5 linked regions of the Homo sapiens genome follow. The protein of the gene in region 2 interacts with the protein of the main gene of each other region in a pairwise test. Each region holds a gene or a part of one and is shown on either strand. Other genes may lie near its edges. The genes, in order: GPX8, ZDHHC22, CREB3L1, TMEM14B and BMP2K.

What was found.
Region 1: the proteins of ZDHHC22 (region 2) and GPX8 interact in binary tests that used the Homo sapiens proteins (3 or more experiments, as listed by UniProt).
Region 3: the proteins of ZDHHC22 (region 2) and CREB3L1 interact in binary tests that used the Homo sapiens proteins (3 or more experiments, as listed by UniProt).
Region 4: the proteins of ZDHHC22 (region 2) and TMEM14B interact in binary tests that used the Homo sapiens proteins (3 or more experiments, as listed by UniProt).
Region 5: the proteins of ZDHHC22 (region 2) and BMP2K interact in a two-hybrid assay, tested with the Homo sapiens proteins (one large-scale study listed by IntAct).

Annotation. Positions count from the first base shown.
Region 1 is NC_000005.10:55,163,171-55,165,483, reverse strand, and holds part of GPX8 (probable glutathione peroxidase 8), read right to left. Parts: intron 1,430-2,313; coding exon 1,266-1,429; 3' UTR 1-1,265.
Region 2 is NC_000014.9:77,138,989-77,143,228, forward strand, and holds the start of ZDHHC22 (palmitoyltransferase ZDHHC22), read right to left. Parts: upstream 2,804-4,240; 5' UTR 2,615-2,803; intron 1,757-2,614; exon of another isoform or gene 1,555-1,756; intron 765-1,554; 5' UTR 751-764; coding exon 225-750; intron 1-224. UniProt on the Homo sapiens protein: Palmitoyltransferase that could catalyze the addition of palmitate onto various protein substrates and be involved in a variety of cellular processes. Catalyzes the palmitoylation of KCNMA1, regulating localization of KCNMA1 to the plasma membrane.
Region 3 is NC_000011.10:46,280,655-46,284,179, forward strand, and holds part of CREB3L1 (cyclic AMP-responsive element-binding protein 3-like protein 1), read left to right. Parts: intron 1-3,525.
Region 4 is NC_000006.12:10,750,805-10,754,167, forward strand, and holds part of TMEM14B (transmembrane protein 14B), read left to right. Parts: intron 1-328; coding exon 329-430; intron 431-3,363. UniProt on the Homo sapiens protein: Primate-specific protein involved in cortical expansion and folding in the developing neocortex. May drive neural progenitor proliferation through nuclear translocation of IQGAP1, which in turn promotes G1/S cell cycle transitions.
Region 5 is NC_000004.12:78,908,849-78,912,373, reverse strand, and holds part of BMP2K (BMP-2-inducible protein kinase), read right to left. Parts: intron 1,765-3,525; coding exon 341-1,764; 3' UTR 1-340. UniProt on the Homo sapiens protein: May be involved in osteoblast differentiation.

The sequences.
Region 1 (2,313 bases), on a different chromosome or scaffold from region 2:
CAGAATTTGGGAGTCAAGTCACAGACTACTTAAATTGGGTCTTTTTCTTCTTAGACAAATTTATACGACTTTTTTACATTTTTGGCCATCTTCCTATTTAATTCTTTTATGCGATGAATGTATATTTCATGAGGCAATAATTAACCTTCACCAACTTGGCAGGTTGCTTTGTTAGTCAATTATAAGGCTAACAAAATATAAAGGTCATGACTTTGGGAGAAGAAATGCCTTGTGACTCTAAGAGGTTCAGTGACTGCTGATCTACACTTTAGGACTTGTATGATCACCCCCTTTTTATACTAGAATTTAGGCTGTTTGGAGTTGACTTTTACTATTTCAGCTATCAGAATGATGCAGCATTGAATTCCTCCCAAGTGGCTAATCTAGTACGAATACATTAGCAACCCAAATCAGCCTATAAGGAATCAAGTTAAATGATCTTATACTCATGTCCTTTTTTCTACACTTGGGATTTTCACGCAAAAATAAAGACTGACTTACTTGGTAATATTATGATTACAGAATTTGAGTTGCTTCTAAAAAATAATGCAGAGAGAAATACTGAAAATGATGAAGACTTTTTCAAATGTTATAATACGGTCATTTATAAATGACTATTTATATATGTCAGTTACATACATAGTGACAGTTATAGTAAAACACTAGGAACCTGTACTTAAAAAGAAAAAACAAAATCCTGTACACAAAACAAGCATACATATATAAGGATTTGAATCTATGTATATATATTTTACATTTTTCAACATTTGTGTTTTATTCCATTAACATAACCATTTACAGTTATTCCAGAAATTTCAGTCATACACAGTGCTCTTGAATCCAAAGAGTGGTCTAGTGTGTTGGCATTTTCATCAAGTACAGTCCTAGAAAATGTCAAGTTGAACAATAAGATATTGAGGCACATTGGTCACTGTGTATTCTGAATTCTTTAGTATGGTCAGAGGAAGTAGTTAATATATTTCATGTTGATTCTTTGGCTACTCTTGATTTTTGCTTTGGGTAACATCCTCATCCTGGGAACATTCATTACCACTTAATAGCAAGATAACATTAAAAAAAAATCCTTCATTGCCACATTTAATAGCATGTTTAAAAAGGCAGAGGTTGCAATGAGCTGAGAACGCACTACTGCACTCCAGCCTGGGTGACAGAGTGAGACACTGTCTCCAAAAAAAAAATGTTTAAAATGAGACCAAACCCTCATGGAGACATTTCTCTGTTCTATTAGAAACGCAATGGCATTCTCATAGATCCTCTTTCTTTTTTATGATCACTTGTCTAACCAGAGCTGCTATGTCAGGCCTGATGACTTCAATGGGCTCCTCTGGCTTCCAGAACTTCACAACTTGACCCTCAGGGTTGACAAGATACTTCCAAAAATTCCACCTTGGTTCCTTCTTTGAAGAATCTAAAATATCCAGAACATATTTTCATGAGCATAATTTTATTCTTTGTCAAGATTTTCACTTCTATTAGTATCTGCATAAATGATAACTTTAGTATCAAGTTCTAGGACTGTCATAATATAAAAAACAAAACACCCAAACGAAGTGAAACTCAAGGTTAGAGTAACCAGATTTCAATATACTTGATGACTTCACCTATGAGTCTACTCATCTAGTATGTGATCTTAGTATCAAGAAATGAAGCAAAGTAGGCTGGGAGCCGTGGCTCAGTCTGTAATCCCAGCACTTTGGGAGGCTGAGGCGGGTGGATCACCTAAGATCAGGAGTTTAAGACCAGCCTGCCCAACACGGTGAAACCCCATCTCTACTAAAAATACAAAAAATTAGCCGGGTGTGGTGGTGTGCACCTGTAATCCCAGCTACTCGGGAGGCTGAGACAGTAGAATCATTTGAACCTGGGAGGTGGAGGTTGCAGTGAGCTGAGACCACACCACTGCCCTCCAGCCTGGGGGACAAGAGTGAAACTCTGTGTCAAATAAAATTAAAAGCCAAAAAAAATGAAGCAAAGTTGTAATCCCAAATTGCTGGGATTACAGGTGTGTGCCACCACACCAGGCAAATTTTTGTATTTTGAGTAGAGATAGGGTTTTGGCCTCCCAAAGTGAATAATCACCTTATTTTGAAAAGCAATAACTTTTTTTTTGGCAGGGTCTCGCTGTGTTGCCCGGGATGGGCTTGAACTCCTGGGCACTAAAGTGATCCTCCTGTCTTGGCCTCCCAAAGTGCTGGGATTACATGCATGAGCTACCATGCCCAGCCATGATATCCTTTTGATAAATCTTAATTTATGTAAGAAATGTAGATTTTTTTTCTATTTATACCACTC
Region 2 (4,240 bases):
CAGATAGCCAATAGCAAATTTTCTCAGTGTATCTCATACAATATCTGGGACATAATTATACTAAAAAATTATGAGTTGTTTATCTGAAATTTTAATTTAGCGGGACGGTCTGTATTTTTATTTGCTAAATCTGGCAACTTTTGGGGTTGGGGTTTGGGGCCCGGCAACCTTTGGGGTGGGAGGTCTTTGTGTAGAGCCCAACCTGCCCGCCAAGGCCCACTCACCGGAGAAGAACTGGCTGATGGAGGTGGGCAGGAGCGTGAGGAAGGCCAAGGGGTGGGCGAAGGAGATGGAAAGGACAGCGGAGATGTAGGCCACGCCGGCCACCATGGAGTAGAGGCAGGCCAGGGAGGTGTAGAGGCAGAACAGGACGAAGTTGCGCATGTTCCTGCTGCCGATGCAGTTGCCGGTGAAGAAACAGTGATGGTCGTGCCTCAGGGTGACTCTGGCGCACACTCGGCAGAAGTGGGTGCTAGGTGAGGGGCATGGAGTCTTCCTGGCCGAGGCCCCCTGGCAGGCCCCCAGGTCGTCTGGGGAGTTCTGGATGACAAGGACGTAATTGCCCAGGGCGTTGGCCGAGAGGAATAGGAAGAGCGCCCCGTGGAGCAGGGCGGGCGAGAAGAGCCGGGCGGCCGCGGGGTCCTCGCGCATGCTGGGCAGGAAGAGGAAGAGCTGCAGCACGAAGGTCACCAGGGAGATGCACAAGAAGTAGGCGGGGGCCACCACGTTGAGCAGCCGCAGGGCCAGCATCCTCGATTACATTCCTGCGGGGCCCGGGGTGAGAAGAGGACTGACTGACTACGGCGTCCAGGGGGCGCCCTCGCCCGCTCCTCCGTGCCGCGCGTCTGGGGCACTGCACGCGACTCCACGCCCCCAACCCCCTGTCCCGCGGATTTCCCCTCCCCAGTTCCCTAACCCCGGATCAGGCAGGCCAGAGACCCGAGCCCGCAGCGGCCTCGGGTCTAGGCCCCACCTGGGGGTGAGTGTTGCCTGGGGTTTTGAGCGAGCTCGGCGCCTTGGCGCGGCAGAGTCTGGCACAGGAGGGAGGGACTCGTTTGCAGTCTTTAGGAGTTGTGAGGGTGGGGGGCACCGGGGGATAGGACTCCTCCCCTCTGTGGATGTGGAAACAAGCCCAGGTTTGGGATTTCTGGTTCAGACCTCCCTAGGAGGAGAAAGGGAAGGATTTGGGGTCGGGGGCAGGAGAATCAGCGGCACTTGACCTGCTGGAAATCCTGCTTCACACTCCCCTTTCTCCGTCCCTGCGTCCCCACCCACACACACATCTTGGGCAGCACTCAGGGACCTCACCAGGTTACCCAAGGCTCTTTGGAGGTATGTGTGCGTGAGGGACCACGATGTGTGTGTGTGTGTCCTTGTCTGTGACTCTGTACGTGTAATCTGTGTGCGCTTGAGTATCTGTATTTGTGTATGTATATATCTGCGTGTACAGACACGCAGCCTCTGCTATCTAGCTTTAAAAAAATCAATTGAAACAATCGATACACTCACACTCGCTCTCGGGCACCGGGTGAGGTGGGGGCGCAACCAGAATACCTGTGTCAGCGGGTCCTGGCCAGCACATCTCTCCAACGCTGGCTGCCCGGGCTATTTCTTTGCGAAGAGCGTTTTCATTTGAGGCGAAATTAAAATCCCCCCTTCGCGCCCGCCTCCCGCCCTCCTGCTGAGAGAAACCCAAACAACCCTCATGGCGCCGAAATCCTTTCCATGCCGACAAGCCCGCCCTGGGCGCACGAGTGGATGCTTGGCCAGCCTTTCCTGGGATCGACCCCGCCGCCGTGCTCAGCCCTCACCACGTCCCCATCCCACCCCACGCCTCACAGCCGGGGTTCCTGGCCAGCTTCGGAAGCCACCGAGAAATAGGATTCCGTGCGCCCGAGAGAACTTTTCCAGGGGCTAAGGAATCGGCCAGCCGGAGGCGCGAGAAAAGTTCTGGGAAGGCGGTTGCACCTAGGATGGGTGGATGCCACGGGGCCTCCGTCCAGGCTGTCCCGTCCGCACGGGTCGACTGGTCACCTTGGAATCCCCTTTGCAGGTCCCAGCGCCCCCCGGGAACCCGCAGCCTCCGCGGAGAGCGTGGGCCTCTCCCTACCGCTGGGGCGCAGCGCAGTGCACGCCTGAGGGTGGTCGCCGGGGGCTGGGCACGCCCCCAGTCCTGCGCCGCCGGGGGCTGCGGCGGTGCTGCCCACCCCAGAGAGCCCTCGGCCTGGGGCTCCGGCGAAGCAAGTGCCTTCCCGGCGCCGGTCGCCAGGGGGGCGCGGGAGCAGCCAGATGCGCCGCAGCGCTGGGAAGGCGGCGAAGGACAGGGGCTAGGGGAGTGAGGGGCGCTCGGCAGGCAGCCTCAGCCCTGGCCCTGCGCGGGAGAAGGGACAGCAGAGACCGCCCGTGGGGCCCCGGGGTGTAGGGAGCTGTCCGTTCAGCCCTGGCGCCCGCCTCGCCCGCGGCAGAGGGCGGCACAGCCGGAGCCTTGGAAAGACCGGCAGCGCCGGCAGCCGCGGGCTTCTCGGCCACTGCCTCCCGGACGCACGGGAAGCCGCCCCCCGCGCCGCCGCCGCCGCACTGCCGCCGTCGCAGAGGGGTGAGGAAATCAACTCACCGAGCTCTGGTCGCCGACAAGAGGAGCCCCGGACGCCGGCTCTCGCCCTGCCCGAGGCTGCAAAGTTGTGGACTCGGCCCGGCTGGCTCGCAGCCTGCGCTTCGCTTCGGGAACTGGGCAAGTAGCGGGGATGTGGGGAGGAGGGAGCGGGCAGCTGCTGGCTTCCCACTTGGGCGCCAGCGAGTAAGGGCCAGGAAGCGGCGGGGATGGCAGCTGGGCACCCCCCAGCCCCGCCACCCCTCCCTCCGCTCCTGGGGGCGGTGCTCTGGCCGCCAGTCTCAGCATCGTGGACTTGCCCCCTCCTCCCCTCTCGATTCCCCTTGAGCGGGCTGGGGCGCCCTGCCTGGTTTCAGCGCCCGTTCCAGCTGGGAGATTGGGATTCAGCCCTGATGTGGATTCTCCAGCCATCATCCTGCCCTTCCCTCTCGGCTAGGTCCCACGACCTTCCCTGCTCTCCACTCGGACTGAAGGAACCCTGGGGGCTTGAGAGGTCAGCTTGCCAGGGCAACACCCATGAAGATCAGCGTCATCTCCTCGGAAGGGCTGTGTACAGAGGGTTGGGAGTTGGGACTCTGGAGCCTGTCTACCTGGGTTTGAATATTCACCATTCACTACTGTGAGATCTCAGATTCCAGTTTCTTCGTCTGTAAATTCCAGTGTGATCTTAGATTCCAGTTTCCTCATCTGTGAAATAGAGATATGAGGGTTAAATGACAATCTATGTAAAACCCTTAAACAGGGCCTGCCCAGGGCAAGCACTGCTTGATTAGATCATAATTAGACACTACTTATCGGGCCCCTACTAGGTAGCAGGCATTGTGCTAAGCCTTTAGCATAAGATGCTTCCTTAATCCTCTCAGCCTGATCTGTGAAGCTGGCTGAGCCCCATTCTGGAGATGAGGAGGTTGAAGCTCAGAGAAGCTAAGTCTCATGTCTAAGGTCATACAGCCATTAAGTGACAGAGCCTGGACTTGAACCTGGTTCTAGCATTAATGCTCCTGCACTCAGCCTCTACACAGCCCAGCATCACCCTGGGACCCACGGGCAGCTCTGATTTGAGAGAAGGAAAGACAATGGGAGTTTATCCAGACACAGAGCTTGAACTTGGAGCTTCTTCTTTGAGCCTCACCCCCACCTTCTTATTTCTATTTCCTTCCCCTTCCAGGGCTCCGCTATTCTAAGGTGGGTACTGTGATGCGCCAAGAGGGTAGTGACACCAATGTGTATCAAACAGTGGGGGGTGGGGGGAGCAGAGCCTTAAAAACATCAAACACTGCAGGAATATTGGTGCCATCACCATCCTCAATTTCCTGGGTGTCGCAGCTCACCTACCTGCCCTGTTCCTCTCCTCTCGGTGATGGCATACTTAATAAATAAACATTTATTGCTTTCTCAACTGGCTGATTAAAACAAGAGCAATCCCTTGAAATGAGGGCCATATGCTGATCAGCTCAGCCTCTATTCTTGAATAACCACACACTGTTTCCTCTGTAATTTATCAGCATACATCAAAATAAAAAAGAGGCCAGGAAACCTTTTCACATTCTAAAAGGATCTGACATGTAAGTGAAAGAACAGTATATGCCACATGGTGGCCGTGAGCAGCTGGTAGCCTTGTGAGTTCCA
Region 3 (3,525 bases), on a different chromosome or scaffold from region 2:
ATGGGCGTGATAGTGAGAATTGCTCAGCTACGAGTTGCTGTGTGAACATAGCAAGTCACTTTCCTTCTCTGGGGTCTCCATCTCCATATCCGAGGTTCTTTCCAGCTGAGATCCCATTCCAACCCTTCCCCCAACTTCTTCATTCTGCATGAGGATAGGAAAATGTTTCCAGGGTTAAGGATGGGTAGGGATGGCGTCTGTGTGCCTCTCAGTCTGGAAAATGGAGAGCAGAATATTCGCTATCCTCCTTAAAAATCCAGATACGGGCCATAAATCATGTGGAAATCATGTGTGCTCTGTTGCTCTGTGCAAAATGCAAAATGTATGCTCACCCTGAAAACAACTATGCAAGAAATACGCATGCACTTGGACAGACAGGAGAGTGAGTACACAAAGTCAAGACAAGTGTGTTTGGAGGTGGCTGGGCTGCCTTATTTTTCTTTCTATGAGGATACCTTCATGTTGCTGCAATTCTGTTTATGCGATTCTCAGAGATCCTCAGAAGGGGGCTGCCCTTCCTGTCCCATGTGGGGGCATCTCCTCCCTGCCCCTCCCGCTCTCCCATGGTTTCTGATGTGGCCACCCTTGAGCCACTGTACTCTGTGGTCCTTCAGCCCCTTGGCCAGTATGAGAGAGAGGGTCTGGGCTCCAAGAACTGGGATAAAGGACCAGAGGGAGAGCAGGTCGTTTCTCCAGATGGAAACACTAGGTCTGTGTGCTGTCCCCTCCTTCCTCTGGCTAAGGGGAAGGGATGTCTGGCTTCTCTAGAGGGAACTGGCTTGGGATCCCAGAGAAGCCCCAGCTGGGAGGGTGTGGGGAGGAGAAGGAGGAGGAAGAAAAGGTCTGTTTTCTCAGAGGGGAGCAGCAGGAAGCTGCAAGGATGTTTGCCCAGCACACCCGTTTACTCCCTGCAGCTGGGGAGGCCAGGTGTGGGAGTGACGGGGACCCAGGGACCAGCCCAGCATTGCGGGGAGGCGGTGGGGGCTAAGGCTGATCGCTACTCCCCACACGCCTAGCCTGGCTTCTCCTGAGCTAACTGGGAAGCAGAGAGGCACCCCCACCCCCAGCCTTCGGGAGATTTAGGGAGATTAGAGAAGTATGTGTGTTTGGGTGTTCCTATGTCTGTGGGTGGGCCTTTAACAGTCCTTAAAAGGGGAGATTTGTGTGTGTTTCTGTTTAAGTTCTCACCAACAGGAAAGAGGACAGAAGTGCTAAGGCACTCTGGTCTCAGAGTGCAATCTGCTAGAAAAGATCTAATGAAAAACCTACTGGAGGAGCCCAAATCTCAGGGTGCCTATTCAGAAAGGAGACCTCTGATACCTACTCTATCAAAACATTAAGTTCGTTTTGAGCAGAGGTTTGATTTGGGTTTTGCTTCCCCCAGTGTTGAGGGAACAGTTCCTTGAGTCAGGGGCTTGGTCTGTCTTGTTCACTGCTGTATCCCAGTGCCTAACAACCGTTGATGAATGAATAAATCGATGGATGGATGAATGAATGGATGGATGGATGAAGAAAAAGGGGCCCAAACCAGACCCCACATTCTTAGAGAAGAGGGAAAAGTGTCCTTAAGCCCATCTATTTGCAGCCATCGAGGTCCTGCAGACCCTGCACTGTCTCTGGGGTCCAGGAAGGGCTCTCCATGGTTTTTAATGAGTTCTCATTACCTTGAGCCATCCCCCTACTGCACAGGCCTCTGCAGCCCCTGGTCTAGAATAGTCTACAGCTGGCTGACCCACAGGGGATTTGAACTTGTGGCTCAGGTGTCACTCTTGAGCACTGTCTCTAGGGCTTCCGTTTTCCCCAGTTTCTTCTTCAGATTGCTCTAGGACTCCTGGATCCATACTCACCCAATTTAAGACTAAGCCTTTTCCAGCCCTGCCTCAGAGCCCTTGCACATGCTGTTCCTGTCATCTGGACTGCTTTTCCCCCAGTCTGTCCATCTCAGCCTTCTGATCCCAGCTCAAATATTGCCTCCTTAGGGAACGCTCCCTGACTACCTAAAGTGGGACCCCCCTGTTCTTTTCTGTTTTAGTCTTTTGATATCTTCTAGCCCTTAACCCAGTTTGCAATTATTTTAATGGCCTATTGTCTATTTCCTCCACGAGAAAGTAAGTTCCATAAGAGGAGAGTCCATATCAGTTTTGTGCATTGACATAAACCTAGCACAGTCACATGGGACAAAATAGATGCTCAATGTAGTAAAATTCTACAATAATGCAATAAATATGCCCAGTCAAAAATTTCCAATTATGTTCCTTTGCGGTGACTCATGCTTGTAATCTCAATGCTTTGGGAGACCAAGGTAGGAGGATTGCTTGAGCCCAGGAGTTCAAGACCAGTCTGGGCAACATAGGGAGACCTCGTCTCTACAAAAAATAAAAAAAAAATGAGCCGGGCATGGTGGCATATGCCTGTGGTCCCAGCCACTTAGGAGGCTGAGGAGGGAGGATCACTTGGGCTGGGGAGGTTGGGACTGCAGTGAGCCATAATGGCATCACTGCACTCCAGCCTGGGCAACAAAGCCAGACCCTGTCTCTAAAAGTAATAATAATAATACAAATTTAAAAATAAATTTTCCAATTACATAAAATGTGGAGTAATATTTTTGTAGAATTAACGAAAAACAGTATTTTTCAGATGGTCTGTACTATCACAAAAAGCAGGAAAGTAAAAATTGTGACACCTTACTGCACAAAGCAGACCAAACAGAAAGAGTACCACAGGAGCATGAGGCAGTCACTTTTTTTTACCAGCCCCATAGAGAATGGAGTTTTGCTCACTTTTATTTGAGAAGGGGCCTGAGCATAGAACAGAAGTCAAGTTTGGGTCACATTGTAGTGAACTTTGCTCTATTTCAAGGACTTACTATATTTGTAGAGAAAATTACTTTAGACTGGGGCAATCCTTGTAAGGGAAGGGAAAAATTGTTTTAAAAAAATCCCAGGCTGGATGTGGTGGCTCACACCTGTAATTCCAGTACTTTGGGAGGCGGAGGCAGGGGGATCACTTGAGGCCAAGAGTTTGAGACCAGCCTGGGCAACACAGAAAGACTCCGTCTCTACAAAAAATAAAAAATAAATTATCCAGGCATGGTGGCACATACCTGAAGTCCTGGCTGCTTAGGAGACTGATGTGGGATGATCACTTGAGCCCAGGAGTTCAAGGCTGCAGTGAGCTATTATCACGCCACTGCACTCCAGCCTGGGCAACAGAGCAAGACCCAAAAAATCAGATCTAAGTGTTCAAGAGGTGTACTTATGATTCCTGAAGGGATCCTGGGGTTTTCAGGATCCTGGACTGGCCATCCCTTAGGGTGGTGGGGATGCTGGGTCCCACAGAAGTGCTGTCTGTGCCCCGATATGTTGTGAGGTCCCTCCGGCTTCCCTGGACCAGCTGGGAATTCACTTGCTCATTCATTAATACACATGTCCATTCCTTCAGCAACTGGGCACTGAAGGAACATCTATGCTGGTGCCAGGGTAACCCAGATGAAGAAAACACACTTGACCCTCCAGTCAATCGCGG
Region 4 (3,363 bases), on a different chromosome or scaffold from region 2:
CTAAAAACAGGGTTAGTAAAAACAAGGTTAGGCATTACAAAAGAAGGCCTAGTCATAGTTCTGTCTAAGGAGGGAAGATGGCCTTCTTTCCTTTCCTTAGATGGAAGTGCCCTGCCTATTAGAGGAGAGAAAAATGGGGTGGGAAGACCCTGACTTCTCTGAGAAGATAGCACACTCTCCTTAACGCCTTCCTGCTTGAGTCCACCTTGGCTGTGAGCTGTGTTGAGAGTTCTTTGTGCTGTCCTTTGTAGGGCAGGAGGTCTGGTGGATTCCGTTAGTGAAATAAGTGCCTGACATTACAATGCAAGCTGCGTTTGCTTCCTTCTAGGCAGCGTGCCGTCCCTGGCTGCAGGGCTGCTCTTCGGCAGTCTAGCCGGCCTGGGTGCTTACCAGCTGTATCAGGATCCAAGGAACGTTTGGGGTTTCCTAGGTATGTCTGCTTCAGCGTCTCCTTAGGGCAATCATGTATCTGGAATATTCTTTTCCAAAAGACCCTGGTTTGGTGGGATGGAGCGAGTTCTTCCCACTTAATTTACGACAGTTTCACTGCTTCTCCAAGTCCAAGTCCTCAAAGTTTTAAAATAGGAGAAGGGTGGTGGGAATTGTCCTGGTTCCTGTTTATTGTTTATGTAGATAATATGGAAAGATTTCCATACCTTGTGAATTGTGTGACTCTCAGAAAGTCATCCATCCTCTGTGGGCCTTATTTTCAGTGTTTACCCAGTAGAATTAGTATCAAACTTGTATTACCCATATTTACCCAGTAAAGTCAGCATTAAACTTGTATAAGACAAATATGTGTCAACCGTTGAGGTTTTCCGCTGAAGACCATTGGCCTCAGTATCACTAAAATATCACGTATCTGGGTTAGGTTTGCAGCTGCGTTACGTTTTTCACATTTGAAAATCACCTCTTTAGCAGTCAGCTAACTAAATATATAAGACGTAGACCATGCTTTCAAGGAGCTTTCAACTGACTTCACTGGGGAAGTAAGACATGAGCATAGAAGCAGGACTGGAAAGGTACCCTGTGAGCAGCACGGACAGTGAGGACAGTGAGTGGTGTGGAGGACATAAGAGTCCTCATCAGAGTGGTTTTCAGTACATTTCTGTGGAGCTCCACCCATGTGTCAGACACTGCTATGAGTGTGGGTTCCTTGCGGTCTCTACAAACCCCGTGTGAGAATGAGTGCCATGTGGGAGGGAGAAGCCGTGTGATCTGTACATATCAGCTGGGGTGGGGAAGGGAGGTCCGTGATGGCTAATGGGGTGTGCTGGGGAAGGAGGTGTGTCCAGGTCCCAGCTCTGCCTAACAGCTCCCTCCCTCATGCTCCAGAATGACTTGAGCCTGCATTTTCCCTTTCTCTGATCCTACTCCACTCAGCAAATGACCTCACACCTATTGTAGAGAAAAAACAGCAGCCATCAGGTGGGGACTCCTGGAGCCTTTAATCTCCAAGCCTCCCCTCGTCCTGTTTCCCTCCTTTCCAACACCAGTGTCTTCCTCTGGGCTTTGGGTGTCTTCTCCCTGACCGTCTCCAGACCTTTACACTGGCCAGGATCCTGTCTTGTATTTGTATTCCTCCTTTTAGGTGGATCCCCGCATTGATATTCAGATGTGCTTGTCTCCTTCCCCTTCATAAACTACCTTTTTTTTTTTTTTTTTTTTTTGAGACGGAGTCTCACTGTGTTGCCCAGGCTAGAGTGCAGTGGCGCGGTCTTGGCTCACTGCAACCTCCGCCTCTTGGATTCAAGTGGTTCTCCTGCCTCAGCCTTCTAGGTAGTTGGGATTACAGGTGTCTCCCACCATGTCAGGCTAACGTTTGCATTTTTAGCAGGTGCAGGGTTTTTGCCATGTTGTCTGGGCTGGTTTGGAACGCCTGACCTCAGGTGATCTGCCCACCTTGGACTCCCGAAGTGCTGGGATTACAGCCATGAGGCAGCACGCCCAGCCAAGAGGGAAAGAGGGAGGGAGTGGGAGGCCAAAAGCCTACAGCACCTGGTGTTTCCCCGAAGGTGGGGTGGTAGTCTCCCATCCAAGTACCATGCAGGACCGGACCGACCCTGCTTTGCTTCTGGGATCAGACAAGATCTAGCACATTCAGGGTGGTATGGCGGTAGACCACAAACTTCTTAAAGATCATTTATGCAGCTGGGCGCGGTGGCTCACTCGTATAATCCCAGCACTTTGGGAGACCGAGGCAGGCGGCTCACCTGAGGTCGGGAGTTGGAGACCAGTCTGACCAACTTGGAGAAAGCCCCATCTCTACTAAAAATACAAAATTAGCCGGGCTTGGTGGCTGTCACCTGTAATCCCAGCCACTCAGGAGGTTGAGGCAGGAGAATCGCTTGAACCCGGGAAGTGGAGGTCGCGGTGAGCCGAGATGACGCCACTGCACTCCAGCCTGGGCAACAAGAGCGAAACTCCGTTTCAAAAAATAAAGATCATTTATGCCTCCTCTCCCATCACACATGATCAGCCCATTTCAGTCTCTGTTTCTGTCCCTGTGTTTGTGGAATAGCTCTCCCTGAGGCTGCCAGTGACCTGTGTTTGTACAAAATCCAATGTACATTTTTCAGTCCTCATTTTACTTGGCCATTTAGCAGTTCTCAGCACGGTTGACCAATCATTTTCCATTCTCCTGGTTTCCCTTTTTATCCTCTCATTCTCTTTTGGCAACCTATTTTCCTTTTTGGCCACTAGATATTGAAGTTCTTCAGGCTCTTCTTGTCTACTCACTTGACAGTTTCATTGAAGCCTATGCCTTTAATTTCCACCGATACACAAATGACACAAATTTCTCTCTCCTCCAGGCTGGACTCTCATGTATTCATCTGTCCACTTTCCTTCAGATGTCTCCAGGAATCTGCCCGGACCTAACCTCATGGCCACACACTCCCCCTGTCTTCTGTTCTCCATCCATTCGGTTCTTGATTGCTCTCTTTCCTTTCTACCACCCCCTTTCTGACTAATTCATCAGCAGGTCTTGTCGACACTACCTCTAGCCCTTATCCTGAGTTGTCCTCTTTTTCATCTGCACAGCCATCGTCCTAGTCCCAGTTATCCCCTCTTTCTTACCTGCATTCCCAAGGACGTTCCTTAGCTGGTATCCCCATGTACCCTCTAGTTTCCCTGAAGTTTGTTCTCTATAGTATAGCTAGAATTACGCTTTCAAAATGCAACTCTGGGCCGGTTGCGGTGGCTCCTGCCTGTAGTCCTAGCACTTTGGGAGGCCAAGGCAGGCGGATTGCCGAGCTCAGGAGTTGGAGACCACCCTGGGCAACATGGTGAAACCCGGTCTCCACTAAAATTAAAAAAGGCTTCAGCATTGCTTGAACCTGGGAGGTAGAGGTTGTAGTGAGC
Region 5 (3,525 bases), on a different chromosome or scaffold from region 2:
AAAATAACAGTTTCACTGTCCCTTCTCAGTGGCTACACACCTAGAAAGGTGCCATGTGCTTTCACTGGAAGTACCACACTTGCATTTCTGTGTTGTGATGTCAGTAGCAGAAACCCTTAGTTAGAGCTTGCAATTTAGCTCCCTTTTCTCCTGAAGAGGAATCAAGTTACTACCCTGTAGAGATACTTCATTCTTCTATTTGGTTTATTTAGAAATCACCTATTCTGACTGATCTTTAAGAATGAATGCTATAAAGAGCTACCAAATTTTCTTTCAAATTCATAAAACTGTTCACACTTTTTTGAAACAGGAGTTAATGCCGAGAATCCATCAGAAGTATCTACTGTTTAGAAGGAAATGGAGCAGCACCAAATGGGTCTAATTCGACTGGTTGGGACTGTTGGGACTGATGTGGAGTGATGCTTTGCACCACAAGTTCTGTAAAGGGCACGGCACCAAAATCATCCATTTTCAATACATCTGCACTATGGAATGACCCATGTAGTGAATTTTGTCTTGGCCGCCCTGGCAGGACAGTATTGTGATCAGCACGGATGTCGCTCAGGCCCTGATGTGGAGGGTGCCATGACAGGTCTGGAGAATGGAAGGGCTTGGCACCGAAGGGGTCCAACAGGCTCTCCTCAGGTTGTAAGACATTCCCCCTATCTTTCCCATCAGTCAGTGCAACACTAATGTTCTCCTTGGAGTCTGAGATGGTTAAAAATTCATTGCTACTTTGAGAGTCTCGGCGGCCCACTTTTTTGTGCCTGCGAGCCCTCTCTGGAGTGCGATAGGTAGGCTTCAAAGTCTTCTTTGTGCTAGTTGGCGTGCCATGATGCCGCTTCCCATTACTTTTGGACATATCCTGCTTTGTGCGCCTTTGGCGAGAGGACAGTTTCTGTAAGCTGCGCTGTTTGACTTTTTGCTGCTGGCTCCCCGTTATTTCATCAAAGGGCACAAGCCCAAAAAGGTCCTCATTGCTTTCACTTTTACTTGTTGATGTGAGGAAGGGCTGAAATGGAGTGGAGCCAAATACATCTACACTTTTGGGATAACCAGGGATAGTATGTGCCTCAGGCCCCACTGCATGGCATTCTTGTACATTCACCTTCTTGCTAAAAGGCGCCTTTGTGAATACATCAAATTCCTCCTGCTCCAGTCCTGCAGCAGGAAACCTGTGTTGAGGGAGGTTCTTTTCATTCTTTTCTTGCTGGGGCTGTTGAGCACGCACTGCAAAGAAGGGGACAGCGCCAAATACATCAAACTCCTGTTTGGGAGTCTCCACTGCAACATCAGAGGATAATTGGGCTGAGGTGAGGAGTATTGTATTAAGATCTTGGGTTGGTCCACTGCCAGATCTGTCTCTGTAGACAGAGCTCATGTCACTGTACTTTGCTTTAGCCTGCTCATAATCAGAATCAGAGCTATGTTTCTCCTCTTCTTCCTCATCTTCAGAATCCATGAGGAGAGGCCTATGACCCAGATTTTCTGGTTCAGTATCATCATCATTAAAATCTCCTTGTTCCCCCTGAAGAACTTCTTCATCATCTTGCTCTTCCTCTTCACTGCTCTTAGGAGAAGGGGGATCTGATTCAAAATCACTTTCAGATTCATCATTCCCCTTTTGCACTTGACCCTGTACTGAGGTTTTCTTTCCAGTCCGCTGATCTTTAGATGCTGGACTTGTTTTACCGTTCTTGATAGGGTTTGCAGTGCCATTTTCTTGATTTATAGATGAATGTTCAGCTTTCTTTTCAGGAGAACCTGCAAGTTCAAATAAATATTATTACAGCATTCCAATGCATTTCAGAATCCTCTTGCACTAAATGTTAATATGTATTACACATGGCATTACAAATCCCTCATACGAGTTCCCTTAGAGGAAAAAATAATGTTGTCAATTCTTCGTCATTAGACTTAGAGAATGCATTTGACCTCAGGTAGATAGTTAAGTCTTAATGTAGACAGACTTATTCATATCTGGACCCTACACCCTGCCTCATCGTACTCTCACTGACAGCCAAATTTTATTTATAGCACACAGAATGTAGTAGACTAGCAAATTTTCTTCACCCCACCACCAAAATAACATTATTCTGCTAATTCTGAAAGCTCAGATTTCACATTCACCAAATACCTCCTGCTTATATTTCAACTCTTGTAAAGTTTTCCCATAGAGATCAACAAGCATGAACAGCCTGCCTGCTCAGTTACGTATTTGTTTCACTATTTTTTTAAATCAGCATTGTATTTTTTATAAACCACTATCTTTTGAATTGACTTAGCATGAATGGCCTCACCAAAGCTAAGGACCAGATACTAAATGGAGACTGTACCAAAAACATCTGCCTTCTCTAGATGATATGACTTCCTTTAATTATAATATCTATACATTACATTAAAAAAGCGAGATTCCTTTAAAAACAAATCTAAACCATCTGGAGATGTTTTTAGCTCAGAATCCATTCAGTCACTTCATTTTCTGAGTTCATTCAACGAAAGAAATATAGGGCACTTTGCTATACACTGATTATACATTGGTGAGTAAAAGAAACATGGTTTCTGCTTTCAGGGGTTTACAGTCAGAGGTTGTAAGTAAACATAAATTGTGACTAGTGCTCTGAAATAAAGGACAGCAGGGAAATGGGCGCATAAACCTACTTTGGACAGTGGTGAAGACCTCCCTAAGGAGACGACAGTTAGGATTGAACAATGAGAAGGAGCCCAGCCATGCAAAGGATAAGCTGGAAGCAGCTTCCAATAAAAGCAATGGCATATATAAAGACATATTTAAGGGGCTGAAAATAGGCTATTGTGGCTGGAATATAGTGAGCAAGGGAGGATCAGGTACAACATGAGGTAAGGAAGACTGGAAAAGGCCAGACTGTGAAGGTCCTCTAAGGCCATGATAAGCAGCGTATATTTCATTATACATCTAATTCAAAATTCCATGTATAATGGAAAGCTATTATTAAAATAGGTGTCATGATTAGGTTTACATAAAAAAAAATGACTGCTCTATAGAAAAACACTAAGGGGGCTGGGTGCGGTGGCTCACCCCTGTAATCCCAGCACTTTGGGAGGCCAAGGCGGGTGGATCACGAGGTCAGGAGTTTGAGACCAGCCTGGCCAACATGGTGAAACCCCATCTCTACTAAAAATAGAAAAATTAGCCAGGCATGTTGGCAGGTGCCAGCTGAGCCAGGAGAATCGCTTGAAACTGGAAGACAGAGGTTGCAGTGAGCCAAGATCGCACCACTGCACTCCAGTCTGGGCCAAAGAGCGAACTGTCTCAAAAAAAAAAAAAAAAAAAAAAAAGACTAAGGGAAGGTAAGAAGGGGAGTTCAGGCAAAAGGAAATTATAGTAATGCAAGTTAGAGATTTTGGTGGCCTAGATGACATGACAGTGGTGGCAGGGTGGGTCAAAGTAGAAAAAATAGAGATTGAAAACTCTTGGTGGATGGCAGCACCATTAACAGAAAGAAAAGAATGAGTGGCGTGATAGAAACCCATTTACCCTGATGT